2 separate regions of the Homo sapiens genome follow, and region 2 is linked to region 1. The links come from fine-mapping of genetic effects on gene expression. A gene starts in region 1. The other region holds a variant in brackets. All regions are shown on one strand. Distances are from middle to middle. Region 1 holds the start of KCNQ1 (potassium voltage-gated channel subfamily Q member 1). Region 2 overlaps KCNQ1 (potassium voltage-gated channel subfamily Q member 1).

The links.
Region 2: its variant is fine-mapped to the expression of KCNQ1 in whole blood (TOPMed, PIP 0.97).

Annotation. Positions count from the first base shown.
Region 1 is chr11:2,442,285-2,447,644 of GRCh38, forward strand. KCNQ1 (potassium voltage-gated channel subfamily Q member 1) reads left to right here and starts at 2,724. Exons shown (of 16, transcript NM_000218.3): 1 at 2,724-3,200. The coding sequence starts at 2,815. It overlaps TRPM5 (transient receptor potential cation channel subfamily M member 5), which reads right to left and starts at 2,230. Exons shown (of 29, transcript NM_014555.4): 1 at 2,147-2,230. RefSeq lists silencers at 2,524-2,633, 2,644-2,713.
Region 2 is chr11:2,845,727-2,851,086 of GRCh38, forward strand. It overlaps KCNQ1 (potassium voltage-gated channel subfamily Q member 1), which reads left to right. Exons shown (of 16, transcript NM_000218.3): 16 at 2,041-3,379. The coding sequence ends at 2,277. All of the region lies in intron 2 of KCNQ1-AS1 (KCNQ1 antisense RNA 1), which reads right to left. Among named protein-coding and RNA genes, the nearest start is that of KCNQ1-AS1, 13 kb to the right of the region's middle. The variant A/G (reference allele first, on the strand shown) is at 3,209.

The DNA.
Region 1 (5,360 bases):
AGGACTGGTTTGTACTTCTTTGATTTTTTAAATCTGTATCACTTTTATACTGAAAATCTTGGTTCCAAAGGAATTTAGCATCATTCTTTGATACACACACACACACACACACACACACACACACACACACACACACAGAGTTCTTTGGGATCCTTTGGTTGAGTATTAGTGATCATATTGATCATGGCACTCCATCGTGTGACTGTACCACAGCACAGCTGAAGCGATTGAAGGACATTGTGATTGTCTCTAGACTTTTGCTAATATAAAAAATGCTGTTTTGACTATCATTATGTATATGTACTTTTCTATTTTTCCTACATATCTTTGGGTTATTTCCTAGAAGTGGGGTTTCTGTGTCAAATGATACATTTAGTAATATCGCTAGGTCTCTTTTCTACCAGTGATGAGGAGTGCACCTGTGCCTGCTGCCTCTCCCACAGAGTTGCCATCAAAAGTCTGGATTTTTGCCAATCTGATAAGCAAGCAGTGGTATCAGAGTGTACTTTTCATTTGCATTTTTCTTGTTATAAATGAGGTTGAACATTTTTTCATAAGTGCAAAGGTCATGAACCCCATTTCCTATGAACTGCTCATGTCTTCTGCTCCCTTTTCTATAGGACTGTCTGGCAGGTTCCTCACCTCAGTTTTGATGTTCTTTATGTATCAGTGATATTAATCCTTTGTGATCGAAACTGCAAATACTTTTCCCATTTGGTCATTTGTCTCCTTTACTTTGCTAATGGTGCTTCTATTTTAATTTTTCTTATTTTATCTGTTGCTTTTGGATTTCAAGTCATAGTTGGAAATGTTTTCCCGATTCACAGGTTCTTGAGGAATTGACCTGTACATTCTTGTAGAATTTGCATGGCTTCATCTCACCCTTTACACTTGAGCCTCTGATTCATTTGAGATTTATTCTCGTGTGCGGTGAGATGGACCCAAGGTATGCTTTTTCTTTCTTTATGACTGTCCAGTTGTCCAAACGCTGCTTATTCAAAGCTCACCTTCCTCCTGCTGAGGTGGGAGGGGAAGGCAGAGACTCCATGCAGGTGTATGTATGTTCACCCGGAAAGTAACTGCTGAATGCGTGCTGTGTGCCCTGCAGAGCTGACTGACTGCCCCCATCTTCTGACCCGCTGCCCTTCTGCACCTTCACTGATATGCTTCCCAGGAAGGTACCCTCTCCTCGGCCTCCCTTGTGTTATCACAGCGCCCAGCACAAGCTGGGACCCACTCCATCCACTCTTGCTGCAAATACAGACTGTGCACTCCTGTGTGGCACCTCACTAGGGTGGGGAGTCAGGCGTCAAGGGCCTGGGCTGGACTCCGTCCACGATAAAAGAGCAGACTTTTGGCAGGGGGTGGTAGATACATCAAATTGACCCAGGGTGCTCAGGGACGACCTGGAAGTGTCACATGAGTTATGGGTCTCCTGGCGGGGCGGAGAGTCACCGCTGAGCTCCACCTTTAGTCCCTGCCTCAGGGCTGTGTGCAGTATCCTGAAAAAAGCCGGTCTCTTCTGTTGGCTGCCCCCCACCCCCCCCCCAAGCCTGAGACGTGCTGAGACCCAAATGCCAGTAGCGGGCGGGAGGCAGTGCAGAGACCTGTGAAAATCTTCCGATGTGACCAACCCACCCCCACCCAGGGGAATCCACGGGGCGCAGCGGCAGCGCGGTCTCGACGGTGGGGAGGACAAGGCGCCCATTCTCCAAGTTACTAGGGTGGCGCAAGCGCCTCTCCCTTTAACTGCCCAGGCAGCCCCGCCTGCTATGCCCGGCAGTCAAACCAGGTCCAGACCCCGGCTGTGCCGCCCCCACCCCCCAGCAGCCCTGCCGGCTCCCCACCCACACAGCTCCCACTGGGAGGTACCTGACAGTGGTGGTCCCATCTCACCCTCCCGGTCCAAGGGCCCTGGTGGGAAGCGACCCGAGCGTATTCGCCGCCCGCAGCTCGCGCGCCTGGGCACCCGGGGGCGCTCACAGTGATCGCGGGGCCAGCACACCCTCACCCAGGACATCCCTTTCCTCCCCCCAACCCCAACTCCGGAGTGGCTCAGAGGGAGGGAAAGTAGATGCCGGCACCCTACCCCGCCCCTCCTGCCCCCGCTGTGCCGTTCTCGGTCGTGGTATCGGCCAGGCCTTACCCCTTCCTCCCTGGCGCAGCTGGGGTCCTCCTCCGGGCCAGGCAGAGCAGGCGGGCATCAGAAGTGGGGGCCAAGCAGGTGGGTGAGGGCAGGGCAGGAGCAAGCAGGGGAGATGCAGACGGGGCGGGGCCAAGCAGGTGGGTGAGGGCGGGGCCAAGCAGGTGGGCGGGGAGGGGGCGGGGCCAGGCGGGGTAAATGCACACTGGAACGGGGCCAAACAGGTGGGCGAGGAGGGGGCGGGGCCAAGCGGGATAGATGACACGAGCGGGGCTAAGCAGGTGGGCTCGGGCGGGGGTGGGGGTGGGGGCGGGGGCGCAGGCGGGGGCGGGGGCGCGGACAGGCCAAGCCAGGGGGTGAGGCGGAGGCAGGGCCAGGCCGGTCCGTGGGGAGAGGGCGGGCCAAGCCGGTGGGCGCGGGCAGGGACGCCCTGTGCGCGCCGGACCGGCGGGGGCGGGGCGTGCAGGCGGGGGCGGGGCACGCCGTCCCATGGGACCGGCCCTCGGCCACTGCCCCCTCCGGCCCCGCCCCGAGCGCCCGGGCTGGGCCGGCAGCGGCCCCCCGCGGCGGGGCTGGCAGCAGTGGCTGCCCGCACTGCGCCCGGGCGCTCGCCTTCGCTGCAGCTCCCGGTGCCGCCGCTCGGGCCGGCCCCCCGGCAGGCCCTCCTCGTTATGGCCGCGGCCTCCTCCCCGCCCAGGGCCGAGAGGAAGCGCTGGGGTTGGGGCCGCCTGCCAGGCGCCCGGCGGGGCAGCGCGGGCCTGGCCAAGAAGTGCCCCTTCTCGCTGGAGCTGGCGGAGGGCGGCCCGGCGGGCGGCGCGCTCTACGCGCCCATCGCGCCCGGCGCCCCAGGTCCCGCGCCCCCTGCGTCCCCGGCCGCGCCCGCCGCGCCCCCAGTTGCCTCCGACCTTGGCCCGCGGCCGCCGGTGAGCCTAGACCCGCGCGTCTCCATCTACAGCACGCGCCGCCCGGTGTTGGCGCGCACCCACGTCCAGGGCCGCGTCTACAACTTCCTCGAGCGTCCCACCGGCTGGAAATGCTTCGTTTACCACTTCGCCGTGTGAGTATCGCCACCGGCGACGGCCGGCACGAAGGTGCTTCCTGAGAGCTGGTGTGGGGGAGCTCTGTCCCAGCGCCACCTGCCCCGTCGGAGCTGCGACCCCGGAGCAGAGGAGGGAAGGAAGTGGGGAAACGCAGAAACACAAACTCTGCACTCTCCCTTGAAGTTCAGAGGCGCTGCTGTGTCTGGGGGTGCGCATCTTCTCGCAGGCCCGGCGTGGGGAGGGAGCCGGCTGGGGAGGGGACCACCTGGAGCCCAGAATTTGGCTCCACACCTCCGGGAGGGTAGTCCAGGTGTGAATCCTTCTGGGAAGAGAAGCGTGCTGGGGAGCGCACCCTTGGGTGCAGTAAGATAACTCCTCAAGGTCGGCTGAGACTCGAGGCTCAGGAGCCCCCAAGAGAGAAGGCCCCTGATGTCCGGTGCCGCATCTCAGACCCCCTGAGGCCCAGGTGGACTCTGGGGCAGGGGGCTGTCCAGGATAGGAAGGTGACGGTGGCGGTGCTCCCTGAGGGCTCAGCATGCCACGGGCCGTCCCCACGGGCCCCACATTAACTAATTGAACCAAGCTCATGAAAACCTGGCTTGATGCAGAGAGCGGAGAGGCACGTTTGCAGCTCTCACTAAGAGGCAGCTGTGCTCCCGGAGAAAGCAGCGCTGGTAGCAGAGGCACCTGGCCCCCCTGTTACCAGGTGGTTCCAATTCCCGGTACAGCGTGCCTGAGCAGGGCTGGGCACTGGATTTCTCAGGGACAGGCCTGGGAAGTCACCTCCGGGAAGGTCCAGGCTGCTCTCCTCCATGCCTGCCTGGGGCCTTCCCCCGCTGCCCCAGTGGCCCTACTTCCTGGCTGCCCAGCCAGCGGCCTTTTGGTGTGGTGCCAGCCTCTGGCCTGGGAGCCTCTACCCAGACATCCCATGGCTGATGGCTGTGGGGCTCACCTGAGGGCTGAAGGGTGGTCTCCCTGAGCGTCCTCAGGTGGAAGCATCTCCTCTGCCTCGGGCAGGCTCAGTAGAGAACTGGCTGGAGGGCATCCAGAGGCCTGTCCATGCCTGCTGGCAGCTGCCACCAGGGCCTCAGGGCGGGTGACAGCAGGAGCCAGGCCCCAAATGGCTTCAAGCATCGTCTCAGGTGAGGGGGTGGGGTAGGGGTCGCAGGGCTACTGCCTTCCTTGCTAAGAGGTGGCCTTCCACATCAGGAAGGGGAAGTCTTACCCACCTCCCTCCTCAAAGATGTGGTTGGGGGGTGATCTTGGAGACTTTTCCCCACCCCAGCTCCCAAGCCCCTGTCTCCTGACATGTCAGTGGGTGCCTGAGCCACAGCCGCTGCTGGTCTGTGAGAGGAGCTGGCTCTGCTCGTGGCTGCAACAGCGGGGGCTCGGCTTGGGGTTTGGGAGATATTTGTGTGCAGTGACCCCAGGGGAACCCAGTCCGATGCCACTGTGCAAATGTCTAGCAGATGCCAGGTTCACAGGTGCTGTGTGCTGGTGGCCACCTGCCTCCCGGACCCCAGACTCTCTGAGATGTCCAAGGGTGGGAAGACCTCCTCAGCCAGAGGCCAAGGCAAAGTGCCCGCAGACCCCCTCAATTCTCACTTGTATTCAGGTTTGTGGACACATGCCTCCGGGCTCACTGCAGCCACCCGTGTGGAGGAAGAGGAGGAAGAGGGCTCGCCACGCCCCAGAGGAAGTCTCTGCTTGCACTTGTGTTTTCTTCCTCATTTGGATTGTTTAGGTCTCGGAAGTTTGCTCAGCAAGAGTCTACCTTCGCCCAGCCTCCGCAGAGCTGGCAAGGCAGGGGTGGCTTCTGGGGACAGGGGCAGGATGGCTTCTGTGAAGGGGTGGCCAGGAAAGGGATGCTTCTGTGAAGTGGCCAGATCTGGGGCTGGTCCTTTCCAGTTCTGGGTCCTGTCCTTGTAAGACGTGTGCCTGGCCCTGGGAAGTTGTCATGAACAGCCTCCAACCCAGGTACCTCCATGTGGGGTGGGACTGGAGGTGGACCCTGACTGGGCAGGACATGTGGCTTGGTGGGGGCCTGGGAGATGCGCTCCCACCCTCAGTGCCCTAGGAGGTTGGCAGGACCAGTCTCTTGAGGGGAGACCTGGTCATAGAACCAGGATGGCAGAGTAGCTGGAGGCCACCTGCAGCCTCACGAAATCAGGTCCAGC
Region 2 (5,360 bases), 400 kb after region 1:
CACCCAGGGCTGGAAGTGGGTCCCCTGGGCTCCTGCTCTGGGCAGGGCACAGTCCCACCCTCCCAGGTGGAGGCTGCCCACCTAGCCCTCTAGACAGACGCTCGGCCCCACTCAGGCAGGCGCCCCCCTCTCATCTCAGCCTCTCACAGCACCCTGTTGGCCGCCTCTTCCTTAGCCTGCTCAGCCTCCGTGGTAGGTGCTGTGGGTGACGACCACAGCACCCAGCCTTTGAAGCTGGCCCGGGTCCACCCAGACCCTAGCAAACTGGTTGCTCCCTCTCTGGCCATCCCGGGGCTTGTGCCCACGTCACCCAGCAGCATCTTCCCTGGGGTTGTCTCACCCGCACAGAACCCAGCCCTGGCCCACACCTCACCCCAAGCCTATCCGGCTGGATCAGCAGTGGGGCCGGGCGCATGAGGGACCAGGCCCGCCCGGCGCAGCCTAGGGTGCAGACCCCTGGAGTGCACGGCCAGGTGGACCGGGCCAGCTCCCGCCTGCTGCCTGTGCTTAGGGCCAGTGGTTGACGTTGCTGTGGCTGAGTCATCTTCGTGCCTCTCTCTGGAGCCATACGTTTCCCTGAAGCAGCTCTGCTGTTCAGCCCTTATCGCGTGCTGATCTGTTTGCCCCTCCCCCACCACTTCTAGGTCTTTCCAGGCCTCCAGGTACCCACGGTGGGGGAGGGTCTACTTCATTCTCCACAGAGCACGCTGAGGGGCTCTCCTGCAAGAACACCGCAGGCTGAAGGACCAGCCCTGTCTCCTGTGGCCACCAACAGAGCTGTGCGCCCTCCCCGAACCCTCACTCATGCTAGGGCCCCCAGGTCCAACCTCCTAGGGAGAGGGGTCCCCAACCTGGACTCCCTCACCTGCCCTAGTCTGCCCCTGGGGTTGGCCCTGCTCCACCCAGCACCTGCTCTGAGGGTGCCAGGGTGCCGGCCTGCCGGCCAGGGCCTTCCAGTCTCCCCATCAAGGCTGGATGGCCACTTCCCACCCGGGGCGGGCTCCAGCCTCATTCCCCAGCGGTGCTGTCCTTCCAAGGAGCTCTCAGATCACCTGGCTGTCCACTCGTTTGGGGCTTCTCTGCTGCCTCCGCAGCACTGCGAGGCCTCTGATCACCTACTCTCTGTGCTGGGTGCATTTCGGGTTCTGTCCTGCCTTGACCTCCCTGCCAGCTTTGCAGGGCAGCCACCCTGGCACATAGCTCACTGCAGAACCAGCCCCTGAGAAGGTGGAGGCCACATGGCTAGCCAGAGGGCACGCTCTAGGGCACTGCTCTGACCACAGAATGTGGGTGCAGATGGTGTCTGGGAAAATAGTGGTGTCCCCGCTAGGTTAAAGACATGGCATAATGGTTCCTGGGGGATGACAAAAAAACCCACCCCCACCCCCTTGCAGAAAGCATCACAGAGGCACAAGCCCTGTGCCCTGCAAGCCCCTCCTGGAAGTGGCCCAGCAGGGGCATCCCCTGCACACCCAGGCAAAGCCCAAGCCCTCTGCCTCCTCAACCACCCCAGGCCCTGCCCATGAGCCAGCCTTGCTGAACTCTGCCCTCTGTCCAGTTCTCCTCCAGACACAGTAGACATAGCCCCCAGCCTTTCTTGACCCTTAACCCAAATGTCCCCAAGCCTGGCCTCAAGAAGCCAAAGGCTGCCGCAAACCCAAATATTTCAGGTCCGGGTCCCTGGTGCAGACCCTGCCATGCGGGGATGTGGCACAGAAGGCCGGCCAGCCTGGGGAGCAGAGAAGGAGGAGAGGAGAGCTCCTGGCCCTGAGCCTGAATGCCTGTGGACACATATAGGGACTCCCAGCACGCACGGGATGGACTCCAATCGGCACACATGCACATTCCTTGCACACACACAGGCGCGACCGAGGGCCTTGCAGACATAGGGTGCACACGTGCGTGCCGCCTGCATACAGCATGCACTTGCAGAGACGGTTGGCACCTTCCCTTCTCTGGCCCCAAACCTGGGCCCTGAGGCTGTCTGCACACCTGGGTGCTTCCCACCACTGACTCTCTCGTCTGCCTTTGTCCCCGCAGGTGACGCAGCTGGACCAGAGGCTGGCACTCATCACCGACATGCTTCACCAGCTGCTCTCCTTGCACGGTGGCAGCACCCCCGGCAGCGGCGGCCCCCCCAGAGAGGGCGGGGCCCACATCACCCAGCCCTGCGGCAGTGGCGGCTCCGTCGACCCTGAGCTCTTCCTGCCCAGCAACACCCTGCCCACCTACGAGCAGCTGACCGTGCCCAGGAGGGGCCCCGATGAGGGGTCCTGAGGAGGGGATGGGGCTGGGGGATGGGCCTGAGTGAGAGGGGAGGCCAAGAGTGGCCCCACCTGGCCCTCTCTGAAGGAGGCCACCTCCTAAAAGGCCCAGAGAGAAGAGCCCCACTCTCAGAGGCCCCAATACCCCATGGACCATGCTGTCTGGCACAGCCTGCACTTGGGGGCTCAGCAAGGCCACCTCTTCCTGGCCGGTGTGGGGGCCCCGTCTCAGGTCTGAGTTGTTACCCCAAGCGCCCTGGCCCCCACATGGTGATGTTGACATCACTGGCATGGTGGTTGGGACCCAGTGGCAGGGCACAGGGCCTGGCCCATGTATGGCCAGGAAGTAGCACAGGCTGAGTGCAGGCCCACCCTGCTTGGCCCAGGGGGCTTCCTGAGGGGAGACAGAGCAACCCCTGGACCCCAGCCTCAAATCCAGGACCCTGCCAGGCACAGGCAGGGCAGGACCAGCCCACGCTGACTACAGGGCCGCCGGCAATAAAAGCCCAGGAGCCCATTTGGAGGGCCTGGGCCTGGCTCCCTCACTCTCAGGAAATGCTGACCCATGGGCAGGAGACTGTGGAGACTGCTCCTGAGCCCCCAGCTTCCAGCAGGAGGGACAGTCTCACCATTTCCCCAGGGCACGTGGTTGAGTGGGGGGAACGCCCACTTCCCTGGGTTAGACTGCCAGCTCTTCCTAGCTGGAGAGGAGCCCTGCCTCTCCGCCCCTGAGCCCACTGTGCGTGGGGCTCCCGCCTCCAACCCCTCGCCCAGTCCCAGCAGCCAGCCAAACACACAGAAGGGGACTGCCACCTCCCCTTGCCAGCTGCTGAGCCGCAGAGAAGTGACGGTTCCTACACAGGACAGGGGTTCCTTCTGGGCATTACATCGCATAGAAATCAATAATTTGTGGTGATTTGGATCTGTGTTTTAATGAGTTTCAC[A/G]GTGTGATTTTGATTATTAATTGTGCAAGCTTTTCCTAATAAACGTGGAGAATCACAGGCTGGGCTGGGCACTGCTCTCACCTTGGTTCCTGGGGCATCCATGGGGTCTCTCACAGACAGGACCCCTGCAGTTCCCCTGGAAGCAGTGCCCAGGTGGCTGTGGAATAGGAACGCTATGTCCGTGTACTGAGGAGTAGGTCAGGGTTCAGAGGGGCTGCAAGATGCCATCGAAGGCTCTAGCTTAGCGACGTCGCTCCTGTTCTGGGCCCTGGGCTGGCCCTGGCCATGAAGTGCAGTCACAGTGTGGTCACTGCCTGTCTTCCAGCAGACTCTATGCCCTTGCGGCAGATGGGCTCTGTCTGGGCCTCTCTGTCTGCCCCTCCCAGGCCAGGGTGGCCCTTCATCAAGGACCCACATGCTCCACTCTGGGAGCAGGCCCCACCCAGGCCCATTCCCCAGGATGCCAAGGGCTAAACTCTGGAGGGGTTGTGGTGCAAGGAAGGCCTGGGGCCCCTGAGGCTCCCATATGCTCACCCCTGGCCTCCTCCGGGCCTCTATTTCCCCATTGGTAACACGATGCTCCCTTAGCCTGTCCAGTTCTCTGAGTGGGACAGAGGGGCCACCACCCTGCTCGCCCTGACCCTGTTCCTGCAGCTTTCTGTGAGGCCCGCCTCTCCTAAGGTGGAAAGAGTGCCTCACTCTCGGCACAGACACACTCAACCGGGGCAGGTGCATCTGCTGTGCCCCCACCTCAGCTATTGGACCGTTTCTCAGTCCTTCAGGACTGCAGCCGCCTTCTGTCCTCTTTCCAGAGCCCATCCCGAAGTCTCAGGATATGAGGGCTTGGGGCATCTGAGATATCAAGGATGGGGCTGTCCTGAGTCCACTGGGGGCAGGAGGCGGCCAGCAGCAGGTGGCAGGGACAGGGGCCCCAGGTTTCTGTGTGGAGTAGGGGTGGAAGCCCTTGTTAGAGGGAAAGGCCCTGGGTCCCACCTGGTGCCAAGCCCACTGGGCCCGTGCCCCCAACCCATGGGTCTTGGCATCTGGCCTGGCCAGCACTGACCGGGATGGACGAGGTGGAGGGGCAGCACGGGGCTTCCCAGGCTTCCCTGGCCTGCACCCCTCCGGGAGGAGCGGGAGCAGCAGTTACTGAAAGGCAGGAACTGTTGTTTCCTTGTTGGGTAAATATTTGTGGAAACCCGGGGATGCCGGCCGGAAAGCAGGGCCCTCCACAGCGCCCAGGCCCCCCAGCCCCGGCCGCCCACCCCGGGACCCTGGCCCACAGGGAGCTCCGTGGGGCCGCCCATCTGGGCCGGGCGCGGCCCCGGCACCCAGCCCGCCTTGTTGTCCATATTATGGACTGCGCACAAAGTGCCCGAGGACTCCTCTCCTGGACGGGCCATTGCAGCCCTCTCGGGTGTGAAATGCAATTTACCTGAAATAAAGCCCAATTATGGAATTAGCTAATTAAAGCCATGGCGGAGGCTGGGCCTGGCCGGCCGAGTGCTCAATGCCCGCCGGTGCCCGTGGACTGAGGGAACAGATGGCGCCTCGGCCCGCCGTGCCGGCCGCATTCCTTCACTCTGTCCCCCGATAAGTGACCTAGACAGCACACGACCATCTGGTGTGTGGCACGTCCTGCGGGCCCCGGACAATGGCCCGGCAGACCTCTCTGCGAGAGGGCCGTCGCCCGGGCAACGGTGGCATGTGCAGCCCCGACCCATTCACGGCCCCTCCCGCAGCCCCTTTCTTCGGGCCCTTTGTGGCCTCACCGCGGCTGCCTGGCTGCTCTGGCTGAGGATAGCCATGAGTGTTTGTCCCCAGAGCCGGCCTTTGTCTCCAAATTGGGCTCCCTTATTGAGGTCCTCGGGGTCCAATGGGTGCCAGGAGCATCTGCTGGGGGTGACTGGGGGAGGGGCTGCTCCTGCTTCCTGGGGCACCCACCTCCTCTGCCAGGCTCTCCTCCCCCGTTGCCTGCCCCCAGATGTCCCCTCGTGGGTGCTGGGCGTGGCCATGGGGAAGCCCGTCTCTAGGGCTGGCACTGGCCAAGCCCGAGGTTCTCCCATCTTCGGGCCAGGGAGCCAGGAGGAGGAGGAGTCAAGGGCGGGGCCGACCTGCAGCCCCTCAGCTCCCACCCCAGTCCTGTCTGCGA